Linked DNA regions of Homo sapiens: region 2 is linked to region 1. Evidence: fine-mapped expression QTL. A gene starts in region 1. The other region holds a variant in brackets. All regions are shown on one strand. Distances are from middle to middle.

Region 1 (9,420 bases):
TAAATAGAAAACAAAAATAGATGTCTCTCACAAGAACATCAAACAACATCCATATCCTGAAATAAATCTAACCAACAGATGTAAGAACCCTGCACCAAAAACAACAAAACATTACTAGAAAAAAATGACTTAAGTAAATGGATTAGGTTCATAGATTTGAAAACTCAGTAAAGATGTCAGTTCTCCCCAGATTAATCTATAGATCTAACAAAATCTCAATGCAAAGGGTGAAGAATAGCCAAGGCCATCCTGAAGAAAAAAGCTAAAGTACATACACTGCTACATATCAAGACCTATTATAAGACTTTATTAATTAAGACAGTGTGAAATTAGTAAAGGATGAAAAAATAGAACACAGAAGCAGACCCATGCATTTATGGTCACATGATTTATGACACAGACAACACTGAAAATGAAGAGGAGAGAGAGTGGTCTTTCAAATAAAAGCCTGATTAATTGGTCCCATCTGGAAAAAAAAAAAAAAAAAGACTTGACCCTCACCTCACACCATGGACAAAAATCAATTCTGGTGGTTTACGAATCTAAATGTGAAAGGTCCAACAATAAAGATTTTAGAAGAAAACATAGGACAGTATCTTTGTAGCCTTGGAGTAGGCAAAGATTTCAAAAAGTGCTAGCCATTAAAAAAAGTAATAAATCAAGCCAAATTAAAATTAAGAACTTTTGTTTATCAAATGTATTATTAAGGAATTGAAAAGGCAAACCACAGAGTGAGAGGATAGTCATAATACATGTATCTGAAAAAAAAATTATATCCAAAGTGCACAGAAAACTACAAATCAAAAGGGAGACTTCCCAAAAGAAAAATGAACAAAAATCATGCACAGATATTTCACAAGAGAATATCCAAACAGCCCAAAAAAATTTTAAATTCAATTAGTCATTAAGAAAATTCAAATTAAAACCACAACCAATGTGATATTACTCTGTACCCATGAGAACAGCTGAAATGATAAAAATGTTAAAATATCACATGTTAGGAAGCTATGGATCAACTGGAACTCTTATATGCTGCTTTTAGGAGTATAAATCAGTACAACCATTCTGAAACACTGTTCACCAATATCTTTTAAAGCTGGGCATGTAATTTGGCAAGGCTAAAGAAAAGAGACCAGATGCAAAAAGAGTATATAATTCCATTTAGATAAAGTACAAAAATAGGCAAAATTAATCTAGGCTATACAAAAGTATTGGGTGAATGGGTCCTGACTGGCAGAGAACCTAGAGCATTTAAGATTCTAGTAACGTTCTTTTCCTTGATTTATGTGCTATTAATAGTTACATAGGTGTGTCTGGTTTGTGAAAATTTATTAAGGTAAAGCAAAAGTTTACTACAACATGATAGAATTCAGTGGTGTAAAAACCATTAGAATTTCATATTCAAGAAATTATAAGTACAAGTTTACATTAATTTAACACTGGTTTGAACACAGAGATTAGCCAATCTTTCACTTTGTAGTGTTATACAGCAGAAGTCAATACTTACAGTAAATTTAGCTCTTTCTTCCATCACTTCATAACCCAGTATAGTAGGTGTAGATGGTCTATCTTCCCAATTCACTGTTTCCGGATTTTGTTCTTCAGTGTCTCTTGGTCTAGTAGAATACTCAATGGAAGAAGCTGTACCTGTAAATTTAGTCCTAATGAGGGGACTGCTACAGACAGATGAAGTATTATCCATTTGATCAGGAACACTTGTCTGTTTAAAATTACCCATATTTGAGTCTTCTAACTGGCCCTTAGAAGAATTTGAGCTTGTTGAGACACTGCCAAAAGAAGAACTTCTTTGATTTCTGTTTGTTGTAAAACTGGAAGCAGAGTTTCCTATGGGCATAGGAACTGGGACATAAGGAGTTGCCATCTTCTTTTGGCTTTTCCAACAAGCTTGCACACTGTTGAGTCCACTTAGAGAACAACTAATATGCAATCCATTATTTTCTTCTTAGGAATTCACTATCTAAAAATGAAAAGGACATATTAAAAGGTTAGTCTTTAATGTGCAGCAGGATTCAAAAGAAAAGTATTCTTTTCAATTTTATGACACTATTATTTTATTTGGAATGAAAACATACCTCAAACCCCTTCTCCCAGTTGTCTTTAAGGACTCCTATTTGCAAGATAGAGAGAGCAAAACTACTTCACACTCTTTTTCCTTGACTCCATGTTACATGTTATCCCTTTTTCCTCTACTTTATTCCCTTGTGAAGTATTTCTGTAAAGTTCATTTTAACCTGATTTCATGTATGTAAAAGTTGGTAGGAGAAAGATTGGTAAAGACCCTTCTGAAGCTTTATTCCATGCTTATCATCTTGACAGTACTACATTCAGTACAAGAGAGAAAAAAGAAAAGGAAGAAAACTATTTACATTACCTCTGGATTTAATCAGAAAGGGAGGAAATCTATTCACATTACCTTTCAATTTAATTAGTGAAACTATAAAGATTTACACAGAGTAGTAACAATGAACCAGATGCTTTGATGCTACATAGTATAATTCTATAGAACCCAGGATTAAAAATACACACTTGGTCAAGTTACTCAAATAAAACCCAGTGAACACTGAACTTATATGCAACAAAATTAAATAGTGAAAATTGTAACCGTTCTTCACAGCTTACAGGTCATCACTAATTCTGCTCTACGATAAACTGAGGGTATTTAAATCTTTATAACTTACACTCAAGAATCTGTTATCAAACGGACCAGTATATCTTGTGTCAGAATAGTATCATAACACAAAGAAGAAATGGTTTACTATTACTTTGTTAAATAATAAACTCATAAGAAACTGTAACAACTACAGACCAACAAAATGACAAGACTACACACAACAATAACTGCCCAACTTTTCATACGAAACTCTACTGGTGGGAAAGGTAAGAAATGAGTCACCTGGACTTGGAAAGATGCTGAAATAAGATTTTTAACTCTGGGCTGGGCGCTGTGGCTCACGCCTGTAATCCCAGCACTTTGGGAGGATGAAGCGGGTGGATCGCCTGAGGTCAGGAGTTCGAGGCTAGCCTGGCCAACATGGTGAAACCCCGTCTCTACTAAAAATACAAAAATTAGCCGGGCATGGTGGCGCAGGCCTATAATCCCAGCTACTTGGGAGGCTGAGGCAGGAGAATCGCTTGAACCCGGGAGGCGGAGGTTGCAGTTTGCCGAGATCGTGCCATTGCACTCCAGCCTGGGCTACAAGAGGAAAACTCCGTCTCAAAAAAAAAAAAAAAAAAGATTTTTAACTCAAGTGGCTCTCGGCAACATTTCCCCATTATCAAAGATTCATGAAACTTTAGCTGCTGATTCACCGCTCCTCGGTTCCGCCTGACGGCCTCCCCAAAAACAAGTAAGTCTGAAATCTCAACCTTCTCAAGGTCCGAGGGATCTACCTGGCCTTTGCCACTCTACTACCTGAGGCCGCCTGGCTGGGGGGAGGTCGCATATCAATACATATCAACACAACCACTGACGTCCGAAGATGTGAGCGCTACCCAAGCGTTAAAAAAACAAAACAAGCAAACAAACAAACAAAAAAACGTGCTGTGCTCATTAGGAGCGTCTTCGCCTCTACCCTGATGCGGAGTTGCTCCCAGGACGCTCAGTTCATTCTCACTCTGGAAAACCTCAGGTGAGGTGGCCCGACTCTGAGCAACCCCGTGGGCGGGAGGAAAGAGGCAAATACCAGGCACAGTTCGACCCTCGGAAGGTAAGGCCGGGGTCTGCGCCGGTCACGGGTCTTCCGCACTGCAGGCGGCGAGACCCGCAGCTCCCTGGGATCACAGACTCTCCCGCCTCCGCTGACCGGTGCGCGCCCAGCGCCTCCCAGACGCACAGTGGGGTCGGCGGTGGCCTGAAGGTGGCTGGGCTTCCTGCGGCGCCTCTCCACTCTCCCGCGGAGCCCCTTGCCGCCCGCCAGACATCAAGGTTGCAGGTGTCACCCGTACGAGAACCCGGGACAGCGACCGCCTGTCCTGAGGTAATGACCCAGTCTTTACCTCAGCCCCCTCGGCGATCCCGAACGAGCGCGCTTCCCGGTGACGGTTAAACCGGACTCTCCTTAACCGCAGCTTTTCGCCTCCTCCCTCAGCAGCGAGAAGCCTCACGTGACACCCCCGCCCCAAAAGCAGCTGCTCCCCGCCTCAGCCAGTCTCTGCCCGGGCCCAAGATCCCTGCTGTGTGGAAGGAGGGGCCGAACTGGGCGGGGGGGGGGGGGGGGGGAGAGAGAGAGAGAGAGAGGGAGGGAGGGAGGGAGGGAGGGAGAGAGAGAGAGAGAGAGAGAGAGAGAGAGAGAGAGAGACAGAGACAGAGAGAAAGAGAGAGAGAGAGGGCAAGAGCGAGAGACAGAGAGAGAGAGAGAGAGAGAGAGAGAGAGAGAGAGAGAGAGAGAGAGAGAGAGAGAAAGAGAAAGAAAACGAGCGAGGGAGAGAGCGAGAGCGAGAGAGAGAGAGAGAGAGCGTCACACACACATCTCTGCCGGAAGTGATGTCACGGCATGGGCGCCCGCCCACCGGAGGAGCGACTGGAGTTGATCGGCTGGGCGCTCAGGTAGCGAAGATAAATGTAATCTTGTGGCAGGAAATCGACATTCTCTGCACTATCTTTAGTTTTCCAACTGAACTTCTGAGAAATGGAGGCTACAATACCTAGTTTGCCAAACAGGAGAAGACTACAATTCCCAGAAGGAACTGCGACCAACATTGGTCCGTGCTCATACTTTGCATCATGGGACTTGTAGTCATCACCAGCTTGCGCTGATTCTAACAGGTTATAGATTGTTTTCTAGAATTAGCAGCGCTTTAAGGGATGACAATCGATTAGAAGAGTAGGAAGATAGAACACTGCTTAGTAGCTGATCCGTTCTACATAATTCAGAAGTTCTCATTGGCAGAGAACCCCTGAAATTCTGTAGTGTCTTTTTACTATCCGGTGAGCAATTTGATCCCGATGATGGAATATTAGCCTTGTTAGACATGCGCTTCTGAAGACCTGTGCAGTAGGGAAAGCCGAGTTTTTTGATAGGCAAATCCCAAGATTCAGACCGGTCTACAGGTCTGTTCATCATTAGAATCAGATAATGTGGTTGAAAAATCATTCCACGATTTCTAAGGCTTTTGTATAGTCCCAATGTTACCCATGGAGGGTCTTGACTACAAGTCATCCAGGTTCTTGGTTTTTTTAACAAAGAATTGGACAAAACGCACAAAGAAAGCAAGGAAAGAATGAAGCAAGGAAAGCAGAGATTGAAATGACTGTACACTCCACAGAGTGGGAATGGCCTCCAGCCAGTGGCTCAAGAGCCCTGGTTACAGGATTTTCTGGAGTTTAAATATCCGCTAGAGATTTCCCATTGGTTACTTGGTTTACACCCTCTGTAAATTAAGGAGTAGCCTGCAACCAATCAGAGGCTAAAGTTAAGTTACAAAGTTGTACTCCTATGGAAATGAAGACTAGGCCCAGATACCAAGGGCCTAGAAGGTTGGGCAGGGGGTTGCAAAGGGAATAGCCTCTGGTCTTTTTGTTACTTGGGCTTGGAAAGTTGGAGTTTTCCTTTTGATTTAGTTCTAGGAAGTCAGCGTGAATGGGCCTTAGGTTCCCTGCCTCCGGACCCTATTCTACTGCCCGACTAAGAGTGAGAAAAGGTGATAGTGGTCATTTTGAAATGAAGGTTGGAAAATAGTCTGGTTTGTGACATGATGATGGTTTTGGTTTAAGAGATTCTGCCCTTTTAGTGTGAATGAAATAAAAATAGAATTCTGTAGAAACAATGTTAGGTAGGAGAATAGGGTCTGGAAACAGGGGACCTAAGGCTGATTCATGCTGACTGATATCAGAGGCGACTCCATTTTCAACCCCTCTTTTTTCTGCGTGGCAGTTGCTGCGTGGCAGTTGCAACCCTCCTTTCTTTGGGTGGCAGTTGAAAAATGAAAGAACCTCTGATAGAGCCCCTCCCTCAACCAATCAGACTGGTTGAGGGCCTACTTTTCACTCTGATTGGTCTCCTTCCACAACCAATCAGACTGGGCATAGGCCAATGGGAACCCTCTAGAGGGTATTTAAGCCCCAGAAAATTCTGTAGCTGATGCTCTTGAACCCCTTGACTGAGTCTGTTTTCCTTCTGTGGAGTATACTTTCATTTAAAATAAATCTCTGCTTTCCATGCCTTGTTTGTGTGTTCTGTCCAATTCTTCGTTCAAAACACCAAGAACCTGGACAACTACCCTCAATTGGTAACATATTTTGGTGAGCCAGCCAGAAGGTAAGCCCAAAGTTTGGGATTTGTATTTTTCTTTTTCCTCTTTCTCTCTCTCCCTTTTCCTTTCCAAGCTGGGATCCTTGATGGACAGTGCCTAAGCATGGAGGCAACTGCAGGTTTCTGGCCAGGGCCACTCTCTGGTGAAACTAAAAGGTCCATGTGGAAGCACCTGACTGCCACCACCTGGTTCAGGTGAGGAACCTGAGTTCTTTTCTTTTTCAGTCTTTCAGTGGCCATTTCCTAGTAGCTCCTTGGTAACTGAAGGCAACTGGGGCCACTCTCTGGTGTTAACTGAAGGCCCAGGAGTGAATGGGGATAGCTGCCTTGCCCAGAAAGGGGAAGGACTCTTTTCTGTCTTTTCCAGTTGTAGTCCCTGATGCCTATGAGTGATGCAATTGGCAGTGGCAGCCTGTCCAGGGAAAATTCACACATGTTTCAGGTGGCTTAAGCCTTCTTTCCTTATGTTAAATTCTTCCGTCCCCCTACTTGACTGGCTAAGGATAAGTCACAGAGTTTGGGCATATTGTGGTCTGTGTAACTCATGGAGGGGATTCATGAAAGGGAATCTATGTACAATTTAATCTTGTCCAAATTTAGAAAGTTAAAGAATTGTTTTAAGTGTGATAGGAAAAAAAATCCAAAGGTTTGTCTGAAAGTTAATTCTAGAAGTAGAGACCTTCATCCAGGGACAAGAGGGAAAACTCACAGTGGGTCATCAGTGGTGGTTGGAATCATTCCAAAGTGGTGGTGGCACCAATCTAAGGTCAGAGACGTCTAATGTACTAAGAGGGGTCTCTGGCACTAGAGGATTGACTGCACCCGCTCCCACCAAGGGGCTCAGTTAGGCAAAAGTCTAGCAGTGTGAAAGGAGGAATTAGATGAAGACTGAAGGGGCCTAGAGTCTTCCTCACTGCCCCTGTCCAGGAACATCATAATTACTATTGCAGAGCCCTGGGTAACTAGATGTCATGGGTACCCAAATTCAGTTTTTTTTTTCCAATACAGGGGCGAATTACTCTGTCCTTACTGCTTATGCAGGAAAACTTTCCTCCCAGTCTAAGAGTGTTCCGGGAATGGAAGGAAAGCCACAAACGAGATTCTTTACTTCTCCTTTGTCAGTTTGAGAAACAAATGTTCCAACATAAATCTTTAGTAGTTCCAAGCTGCCTTGTCCACCTGTTGGGAAGCGATATTATCATTAAAATAGGGGCACTACTACAAATTTAAGCATTACCCAGTAAAATTGCTAATAGTCAAAAATACAGACAATATCCCAGACCACATTAATAAACAGGTTAACCTGCTAGCATGTTATGCTGGGAAGCCAGGTGTATTAGTCCATTTTCACACTGCTGATAAGGACAAACTCGAGACTGGATGATTTACAAAAGAAAGAAATTTAATGGACTTGCAGTTCCATATAGCTGGGGAGGCCTCCAATCATGGTGGAAGGCAAGGGAGGAGCAAGTCACATCCTACGTGGATGGTAGTAGGCAAAGAGAGAGGTTGTGCAGGCAAACTCCCTCTTATAAAACTCTCAGATCTTGTGAGGCTTGTTCATGATCATGAGAACAGCAAGGGAAAGACCTTCCCCTATGATTCAATTACCTCCCACTGGGTGTCTCCTATAACATGTGGGAATTCAAGATGAGATTTGGGTGGAGACACAGCCAAACCATATCACCAGGGAAAGCTAAAACAGCAGTGCCAGTCAAAATACCAGTTTAAAGACCCCAGCTATTGCCCCAATTGAAAACAATACCCATTTAAGCTGGAAGCAAGAAAAGGCCTGGCATCCATAGTTGAGATATTGCTTACCCATGAGCTCTTAAAAACCTGCAATTCTCCCTGAAACACCCCCATCTTAACCATTCTAAAGCCCTTGAGGGAATACCTGCTAGTACAGGATTTCAGAATAATTTATCACACTGTTATCCCCGTCCACCCATTGGTGGTGGATCCATATACCCTCCTGGCTTAGGTGCCAGGGGATGCAAAATGTTTCTCCTAGACCTAAAAGATGCTTTCATCTCTATTCCTCTGGCCCCAGAATCCCAATACCTTTTTGCCTTTGAATGGGAAAATCCTAATACCAGAAAAAAAAAAAACAATACATTTGGACAGTACTCCCTCAGGGCTTTCAGGATAGCCCTGATTTCTTAGCCTGATCTGTAGAGAGGGATCTGAGGGATCTGCAATTGGAGAATGGAAGTATATTCCAGTATGTGGTTGAACTTCTTGTGTGTAGCCCAACCCAGGAGGCTTCTGACCAAAATACTATAAAAACGTTGAATTTCCTGGCTGACAGAGGATGTGAAGTGTCCAAAAAGAAGGCTCAGATTACCCTCCAATGGATCCAATATTTAGGGTATGTCTTAACACCGGGAACCCGACAAATATCCCCAGAATGAGTGCAAGCCATATGTGGTTGCCCCACAGCCACCAAGCGCAGCTTTGTTCTTTCTGGGGAATGGCTGGGTTTTGCAGAATATTGGTACCAAATTTGGGGCTTGTAGCAAAGCTCGTATATGAAGCAACAAGGAGGCCTGAAAATGAGCTAACGGAATTGACCCCAGAAATGAGAAGCCTTCACCAAGCTAAAATAGGCCCTTACCAGGCTCCTGCTCTTGGCATCCCAGACATAACTAAGCCCTTCTTGTATGTAGCTGAGAAGGGCGTAGCTGTGGGAGTGCTAGCCTAGAAATTAGGATCAGAACCCAGACCAACTGCCTGCTTTTCAAGGAAGTTGGATGGAGCAGCCTCGAGATGACCAAGTTTCCTGCAGGCAATAGCCACTGCTATGTTTGTGGAGGAAGCCACTAAAATCACCCTGGGCCAACCACTGGAAGTTCTAACCCCCCATCAGGTAAAGCCAGTCTTAGAGATAAAAGGACACATGTGGATGATGGAGGAAAGGTTAAACATATGCCAGGCCATGCTGCTAGACAATCCAGATGTAACCCTTAAAACTTGTAACACCTTGAATCCAGCTTCATTGCTACCCACAGGCCCAATAACTGATGATTCCTGTGAGCAGGTCATTGTACACACATATATTAGCTGGCCTAATTTAAAAGATTAGCCTCTCCCAGATTCTGAAGATAACTGGTTCACAGATGGCAGTAGTTTTGTGTCAAATGGGGAG
Region 2 (9,420 bases), 33 kb before region 1:
ACCAGGAATATTTTAAATGCATAATTACAAGAAGAAATTGAACAAATCCACACCATAAGGGGTAAATTTGACATAACTCTTGGCAATTAACGGATTAAACAAAAAAATGAGTTAAGATTAAAAAAATTTTAACAATACAAATTAGTAAGTTTGATATGATGAACATATATTGAACTGTGAGTCTAACAATTAAGAAATACATATTCTTTTCAAGCACACATGGAAAATTTAGAAAATTTATCACATATGTGCAGATCCCAAAGACTGCAGAACACTGTCAACAATAACCAAGAATTGGTGTCAGACAGAACATAATCTCTGAAAAAAATGCAAATAGACTAAAAAACAGTCAATAATATTAGAAAAAAGTGCTTGAAAAATTAAAGAGAATTCTAAATTTATGGAGCAAACAAGATAATAGGAACAATATAAAATATGAACGAGAATGAAAATATTAAGACTTGTGAGATGCAATTTGACTGTTATATAAAAGAACTGTATAATACTAGAAACAACTGAGAAAGCATCCAATTAAAGAAGTCAAAGAACATACTAAAACCAAGTATAAGAAAGGAATTAAGAGACAGGAAAAGAATTTAATCAAGAGAATCAAAAAGGCAAAAAGTGGTTCTTTGAGAAGACTATTAAAATACACCAAATCCAAGGAGAAAAGACTAGTGGAAAAAACAGTGAGATTCAAAGTGGATATATAACTAAAGATATGTTAAGAGATTTTCAAAAGTCATGTGATACTACTAAGAACAACAGTTTTGCGGTGGCTCACGCCTATAATCCCAGCACTTTGGGAGGCTGAGGCGGGCAGATCACGAGGTCAGGAGACCAAGACCATCCTGGCTAGCACAGTGAAACCCCGTCTCTACTAAAAAATACAAAAAAATTAGCTGGGCGTGGTGGCGAGGGCCTGTAGTCCCAGATACTCGGGAGGCTGAGGCAGGAGAATGGCGTGAACCTGGGAGGCGGAGCTTGCAGCAAGCCGAAATAGCGCCACTGCACTCCAGCCTGGGCCACAGAGCAAGACTCTTATCTCAAAAAAAAGAAAAAAAAATGTATTTTAAAATCTATACAAAATGGTCAAGTTCTAGAAAAATACAGATTCTCAAAACTGAAACCTCCCCAAATAATCTGAATAAACTACAGACATCAAAGAAACAGAATCAGTTGTTAAAAATCTACTATAAGACAAGCTAAAGAAAATATCAAATCCAGATTGTTTTACAGGTGAATTCTAACAAACATTTAGGGAACAACCAATATGCATTTATTCAAATGGTTCTGGATAACAGAAAAAGAGGGACTATTCCTTATTTTATAAAACTGGTATAATTTTGATGCCAGACCCAACAAAGGGCAGTAACAGAAACAAATGTTACATATGCCAAAATTCTAAATAAAATCATTACAATTCAAATCCAGTAATTAAAAAAATACGCTGAATTTGCGTTAATCTCATAATCAATGTTTTATCAACTGAAAATCTATGAATGTAATTTACCACACCAATAGATTAAAAAAAACCCATATGATCATCTATACAGATGCAAGTGAAAGCATTCACACACACACACATCCCTACAACCTCTTAGCAAACTAGAAATAGAACTTCTTTAATCTAAAAACAACAACGAAAACAATAAACAAATCAACATAACTCACAACTACCACCAGCCTATAGAAAACTCCATATCCAACAGCAAAATACAGGATCATTTTCATTAAAGTTAGGATGAAAGGAAAAGGATGCCCACCATAATGGCTTCAATTAACCTCCAAAGAATCTATCTAGCAAAATAATACAGAAAAATGAAATGAAAGATATTACGTATTAGGAAAAAACACATTGTTAATATTGCAGGGGATATGATTACCGATATGGAAAATCCAAACAGATCTATAAACTAACAAGAGAATGTGACATACAAAATAGATATATAAAAATCAATAATAAAACTAGTAACTTAGAATGTAATAAAAATACCAATTATTTCATCAACAAAAATGATGAGGAATCCTATGGCTTTCCCTAGATGAAAAAAATGTAAACTTTTATTGAAGAACTTAAAAAAAAACCCTCCATATGCAAAGATCTATTAATAGGAAGATTCAATACTATAAAGATACTCTTCAAAATTAATAAATAAATGTATTAAAATTCCAAACAAAATGGCAATAGGATTTTTTCATGGAACTCACAAAGTTGTTCTAAAATTCATATGGAAAAGTGAATAGCCAACTTGGAAGAATAAGGGCACCCTTGTTCTGCCAGTTAATAAGATTATTTAATTATAGTAATTAACACAATATAGTACCAGCAGAGGGATGAGACTACTAAAAATGAACTGAGTGGCCAGGCATGGTGGCTCATGCCTGTAATCCCAGCACTTTGGGAGGCTGAGGTGGGCAGATCACCTGAGGTCAGGAGTTCAAGACCAGTCTGGCCAACATGAAGAAACTCCGTCTCTACTAAAAATACAAAAATTAGCTGGATGTGGTGGTGCGTGCCTGTAATCCCAGCTACTCAGGAGGCTGAGGCAGGAGAATTGCTGGAATCCCGGAGGCAGACGTTGCAGTGAGCCAAGATGGCGCCACTGCACTCCAGCCTGGGTGACAGTTTGAGACTCTGTCTCAAAAAAAAAAAAAAAAAAAAAAAAAAAAAGAACTGAATGACCATAAACAGACCCGTTCACACTCAACTATTTAGCATAGAAGAATTACTAATTAGTGCAGTAGGGATGAACTTTTAAATAAATGAGGTTGGGATCACTGGTCATCCATACAGAAAAAGTTAAATCAATTAAAAGATCTGAGGTCAGCTTGCTCCTTTCTGCCCGTGGATGCCGCCGAAGAAGCATTGTTAAAGTCTCTCTTCTCCCTGCTGTCATGTCTAAGTCAGAGTCTCCTAAAGAGCCCAAACAGCTGAGGAAGCTTTTCACTGGAAGGTTGAGTTTTGAAACAATTGATGAGAGCCTGAGGAGCCATTTTGAGCAATGGGGAACCCTCACGAACTGTGCGGTAATGAGAAATCCAAACACCAGGTGCTCCAGGGGCTTTGGGTTTGTCACATATGCCACTGTGGGGGAGGTGGATGCAGCCGTGAATGCAAGGCCACAGAAGGTGGATGGAAGAGTTGTGGAACCAAAGAGAGCTGTCTCAAGGGAAGATTCTCAAAGACCAGTTGCCTACTTAACTGTGAAAAAGATATTTATTGGTGGCATTAAAGAAGACACTGAAGAACATCACCTAAGAGATTATTTTGAACAGTGTGGAAAAATGGAAGTGATTGAAATCATGACTGACCAAGGCAGTGGCAAGAAAAGGGGCTTTGCCTTTGTAACCTTTCACGACCATGACTCCATGGATAAGACGGTCATTCAGAAACACTATACCATGAATGGCCACAACTGTGAAGTTAGGAAGACCTGTCAAAGCAAGAGATGGCTAGTGCTTCATCCAGGCAAAGAGGTCGAAGTGGTTCTGGAAACTTTGGTGGTGGTTGTGGAGGTGTTTTCGGTGGGAATGACAACTTTGGTTGTGGAGGAAACTTCAGGGGTCATGGTGGCTTTGCTGACAGCT[G/A]TGGTGGTGGGGGATATGGTGGCAGTGGGGATGGCTATAAGGGATTTGGTAATGATGGAAGCAACTTTGGAGGTGGTGGAAGCTACAATGATTTTGGCAGTTACAACAATCAGTCTTCAAATTTTGGACCCATGAAGATGGGAAACTTTGGAGGCAGAAGCTCTGGCCCCCATGGTGGTGGAGGCCAATACTTTGCCAAACCACGAAACCAAGGTGGCTATGGCGGTTCCAGGAGCAGCCGTAGCTATGGCAGTGGCAGAAGATTTTAATTAGGAAACAAAGCTCAGCAGGAGAGGAGAGCCAGAGAAGTAACAGGGAAGCTACAGGTAACAACAGATTTGTGAAGTCAGCCAAGCACAGTGGTGGCAGGGCCTAGCTGCTACAAAGAAGACATGTTTTAGACAAATACTCATGTGCATAGGCAAAAAACTCGAGGACTGTATTTCTGACTAATTGTATAACAGGTTATTTTAGTTTCTGTTCTGTGGCAAATGTAAAGCATTCCAACGAAGGGTTTTAATGTAGTTTTTTTTTTTTTGCACCCAGGCTGTTGATTGCTAAATGTAATAGTCTGATTGTGATACTGAATAAATGTCTTTTTTTTAATGTGCTGTGTAAAGTTAGTCTACTCTGAAGCCATCTTGGTAAATTTCCCCAACAGTGTGAAGTTAGAATTCCTTCAGAGTGATGCCAGGTACTATTTGGAATTTACATACAACCTGCTTGGGTGGGGAAGTCATTGTCTTCAGAAACCTTGGTGTAGTTGAACTGATAGTTACTGTTGTGACCTGAAGTTCACCATTAAAAGGGATTACCCAAGCAAAATCATGGAATTATTGGTTATAAAAATGATTGTTGGCACATCTTATGCAATATATTTAAATTGAGTAATGGTACCAGATAAAATTATAGATGGGAATGAAGCTTGTGTATCATCCATTATTAGGTGTAATCAATAAACAATTTAATTCTCTTAAAAAAAAAAAGACCTGAGTGTGAAAAGCAAAAGTTTACACTTATTAGAAGGAAATTTAGGAGAAATATTTTTATGTGCTGGTGTGTAGGGAAGAACAAGAGCCATAGAAAATGTGACAAAGAATGTGCAGCTACTATGGAAGATGCCAGACCTGGCTGGTAATCAAGAAAATTAGGCTAAAATAACAGTAAGATATTATTTTATACCCATCAGACTGACAAAAATTAAAAGATTGACAATACTTGTATTAGTGGTGATATAGAGCAAAAGGAAAACATATTGTTGGTAAAAGTACAAACTGATATAACAAATTTGGGGTGTAATTTTAGCATATGCAGTGAAGTTGAAGAGGAGAATATCTAACAATGAAACAATTGTATTCCTAGGAAAGTACCTTTAAAACCTTGGGTTTCTTCCAAGATTAACATCCACCCCAGTGAGGGAGGTACCTTAGGAAAAATGTATATAGGAATGGAGACTGTCCTTAGAATAGTCATTGGAAGGCTATATTGATATAAATTTCCTTCTGGGATAGAGATCAAACAGTTCCATCAGGACAGGAAAATCTGCTAGCAAGTGATTCTAAGAAAACAGCTTCATTACATATTACAATTTAGGTAGAGAATAGATGGCTTAAGAATTCTGCTTTAATTGTTTGTACTTATAATTCATATAAAATATTAAAAATTATAATTTATTTCTAATAAGCTATTCATTAATGTTAATACAGTAAGACCTCATTTCTTCCAATTATATTATCTCCATACAAGTAATAGATTTGAATTTTCCCAAAAAAAGGTAGACTAATTTATATCCCTAATCTTAATTCCCTCTTTTAGTACAAGTATATGAGGGGTAGAAATGACTACCTTAAATAGGGAACAGAGAAAAGTAGGTTAAAGATTTGCCGAACTGAGTATCCTTTGAATAAGTTTAATTTTACACTCCAAGAAATGTGGGTTAATAAGTCATTTTGGGATTTTTCTTAAAATGAGAGGCTGCTTAAGTAAGTCTGCAGACAAAAGAGATATATATCTCATTAGGTTACTGTAGATTTTACCTTGAAGGAGAGGAGCAAACACAGAATTTCTTCATTCACTGTTCAAATAAACATATATTTTCAAATACAACTGTAGGAAAATGCATTTATTTTAGAGAAAGAGTCTAGGAGATACATTCCATATTACTCTGTTGAGTGTATAAACTTAATATTGCCTTGGTGACTTATTTAAATCAGTGGTTCTACATCAGGAGCGATTTTAAACTCAGAAGACACTTGGTAATGTCTGGAGACATTTTTACTTGTCATGAGTGGGTATGCTATTGGTGTCTAATATGTAGAGGCCTAGGATGCTGCTAAATATTTTCAATGCACACGTCAGGCTGTGCTCTAGCCTCGGCCACCAAAAAGTTATCCAGCCCTAAATGCCGATAGAGTGTATGAGAAATCCTAACTCAAATCAGCTTCCACTCTTCCCCTGCCAAGTTATGATACTTGACAATACTAACTAGCATATATTTTGAACTAAGAACACTAAAAAGATATTCAAATTATTATTTTTTTGTAAAAGGGCTAATTTAAAAATTAAAAAATGAACTAAAGGCTGTCTTGCAAGAAGAAAGAATACTATACTTTAAAGGAATAAAAATCCTGGAATCCTTGAGCTGGAAAAGGAGTGATAAACACTTAGCTTCTTTAGCCCAATGTTCACTTAAAATAGAACTTAATTTTCTAAACAGATTCTAAATCAAAGAGACAAAATGGTAGCCGAAAGGCTGAATGAAACCCAGAAGCAATGATCTAGCCAGGATTTAATAGGGAGTTCTGGGAAACGATATATCTATGGGGCCTTGATAAGCTTTCCACATATCCTGGGACCCAAGCCACACAGGACAACAGAGCCCATATGCGTGTATAGAATAGGAGATGGGAAAGGATTCAGCAGAAACTAAAATCTACAGCATACTTGAAAATGACCTTAACTTTAAATACACTCCTTAGACTATATACAGATCCATTACCAGAGTGTAAAAATCTTACTAGTTTGAGGTATATAAGCAAAATTTATGACCAACTGTTGACTGAACATTAAGCTATGCAGAAATACAAGAAAGCCAGGCTTAAAAATAAAATGAGGAAAAAAACACTGAGAAAAGACATCAGTGACCACACATTGCTGAGGAGACAAACTTCACAGATTTAGTCCAGGCAAGTTACTAAACAGACAGACAAAATAATAATAACCACTATAGGAGACAGAGATTAAGAATCAAGAGTTGCTACAGTGTATCACCTAAAATATCTTGTATTCAAATAAATGTACAAAACACTCAAAGAAACAAGGTCAATCTAAGCATACTCAGGAAAAAAGGCAGTCAATTGAAGCTATCTCTAAACGGCCCCAAATGTTAGGCATATCAGGCAGTGATTTTTAATGCAACCATTACGTACATGAAATAAACTAGAAAAAATTGAATTAATGATAAGGATAATGATAATGAGTCAACAAATAGAAAAATCTCAATAAAGAGAAAGAACAGTTAAAAAATAAGCAATTGAGAATTTTGGAGTTGAAAAGCACAGTAACTGAAAAATTAACAAGAGGGGCTCAACAGGAGATTTAATATGACCGAAATATAAATCTGTGAATCTGAAGATCAATAGAAATTTTCAATCTGAAGATCAGAGAAAAAAGCAATTGAAGAAAAATGAACAGCACTTCAGAGACATTTTGCACAACACAGGGTATACAAATATACAAGTAATGACAGTCCAAGAAGGAGAAGGGAGAGAAAAAGGGAGTGAAAAAGTATTTGAAGAAATAATGGCTAACAAATTCCAAAGTTTGATATAAAACATTAATCTGTCAAGTCAACAAAGCTCAATGAAGCCAAAGCATGAGAAACAGAAAGAGATCTACACCCCAATACATCATAATCAAACTGCTGAAAGTCAAACAAACAGAATATCTTGAAAGCAGCAAGGGCAAAATGGCTCATCATGCACATGGAAACAATATAAAGGTTGATTTTTTTTTTATCAGAAATAATAGGGGCCAGAAGGCAGTGGAATGACACATTCAGAGTGCTGGAAGAAAAAAATCTGTCAGTAAAACTATCTTTCAAAAATGACCATTTCCAGCTAAACAAAGACTGTGAGAATTTGTTGCTAGCAGACCCGTCTTACAAGAAAAACTAAACGAAGATTATGAGACTGAAAGGAAGTGATACCAGATGATCACATCAACCTCCAGGAAGAAATGAAGAGGGCCAGAAATAGTAAACACGTGGATTAAATAAAATAATCTATGAAATATATTTTCCCATTTCTTAAGTTCTTTAGAGCACAAAAGACTGTATAAAGAAATAATTATTGCACTGTATTGTTAGGTTTATAAGATATATGTAAAATAGATAACAATAGCAACACAAAGAAAGAGGGAGGAAACGGAGAGATATTGGAGCCAAGTTTATATTTCACTGAAATATAATACCTTTAGCAGTCACTGAAAAATAAGAAAAAGTAAAAAATTCTACAGAAGAATCAAAATGGCATACTAAAAATTATTTTACACAAGATAAAAGGAGGAATGGGATGGAGACAGATGAGAGAAACAGAAAACAAATTGCAAAATGGCAGATGTAAAAGACAGATGTCGGAAAGAATAACAGATCAAGACCCAATTACACGCTATGTAGAAGGGATGGATCTTGGGTTGAAAGATACAAACAGATTGAAAGTAAAAGGATGGGAAAAGATATGCTATGCAAACAGTAATGATAATAGAGCTGCAGTAAACAAGACAGTATCATACTGGCACAAGGACAGGAAAATAGATCAACAGACTAGAATTAAGAGTCCAGAAACAAACCCTTCTTTTCATGGTCATTTGATTTCTGACAGAAGTGTCAACATAATTAAACAAAACGAACTAAAAAAAAATTAAGATAGGTATAGGAACTTAAGACCCTTACCTAATACCTTAAAAAAAATTAACCCAAAATAGACCATAAACCTAACTGTAAGAGCTAAAATATAAAATTAAAAATATATATATGAGAAAATATTTGTAATGTTGGGTTAGGCAAAGAGTTTTTATAATACAATAGTAAAAGCATAAGCCATTAAAAAAGTGATAAAATAAATTCATTAAAATTAAAAACTTTTGCACTTCAAAGAATGCCATTAAGAGGATGAAAAGACACCTACAGACTGCAAGAAAATATCTACAAATTGTATCTCTGATAAAGGATTAATATCTAAAGTAAAGATTTTATAACTGAATAAGATAAACAGCCCAGGTTTTTTAAAAAATGGGCAAGACGTGAACAGACATTTCATTGAAGAAAACATGAATGGCTAAAAAGCATGTGGCATGATATCAATATCAAAAAATCATTAGAAACATGAAAATTAAAGCTATAATGAAATATCACTACCTATCCAAGAGAATGGCTATAATCCAAAAGAGAGATAATATCAAATGTTTGTGAGGACATAGAGAAACTAAAACTCTCGTACAGTACAAGTGAGAATAGAATACAGCAACTTTCAAAAACTTTATTGGTTTCTTTAAAAAGTTAAACTTGTTACATGATCAAACACTTCTACTCTTAGGGAAGTAGAATTTCTCAGTCCATGAGAAATAAAGCCATATGTTCACACAAAACATTATATGAAATTGTTCATAGCATTACTCATAATATCACAAAACTGGAAACAATCCAAGTATCCCTCAATGGGTGACTGGATAAACAAAATGTGGTATATGCAAACAATGAAAAACCATTTAGTAATGAAATAATTATAGAGGATAACATGGAATACCCTCAAAAGCATGCTAAGTGAAATA

Which allele goes with the higher level. Alleles are on the strand shown, and positions count from the first base shown. SD is a standard deviation of normalised expression in the study named.
In carriers of allele G in region 2, the expression in sun-exposed skin of the gene that starts at base 4,081 in region 1 tends to be lower than with A alone (moderate effect, 0.63 SD a copy in GTEx).

Evidence for each region. PIP is the estimated chance that this variant, and not a neighbour inherited with it, causes the effect.
Region 2: its variant is the best candidate, but not a certain one, in a credible set for the expression of SNX16 in sun-exposed skin (GTEx, PIP 0.54).

What each region holds. Positions count from the first base shown.
Region 1 is chr8:81,838,105-81,847,524 of GRCh38, forward strand. SNX16 (sorting nexin 16) reads right to left here and starts at 4,081. Exons shown (of 8, transcript NM_152836.3): 1 at 4,018-4,081; 2 at 1,508-1,978. The coding sequence starts at 1,882. LINC02235 (long intergenic non-protein coding RNA 2235) reads left to right here and starts at 4,515. Exons shown (of 8, transcript NR_170320.1): 1 at 4,515-4,567; 2 at 6,347-6,467. RefSeq lists enhancers at 3,155-4,087, 4,015-4,064, 4,496-4,765 and a silencer at 3,635-3,684.
Region 2 is chr8:81,804,874-81,814,293 of GRCh38, forward strand. All of the region lies in intron 5 of SNX16 (sorting nexin 16), which reads right to left. It also overlaps the pseudogene HNRNPA1P36. Among named protein-coding and RNA genes, the nearest start is that of SNX16, 33 kb to the right of the region's middle. The variant G/A (reference allele first, on the strand shown) is at 3,592.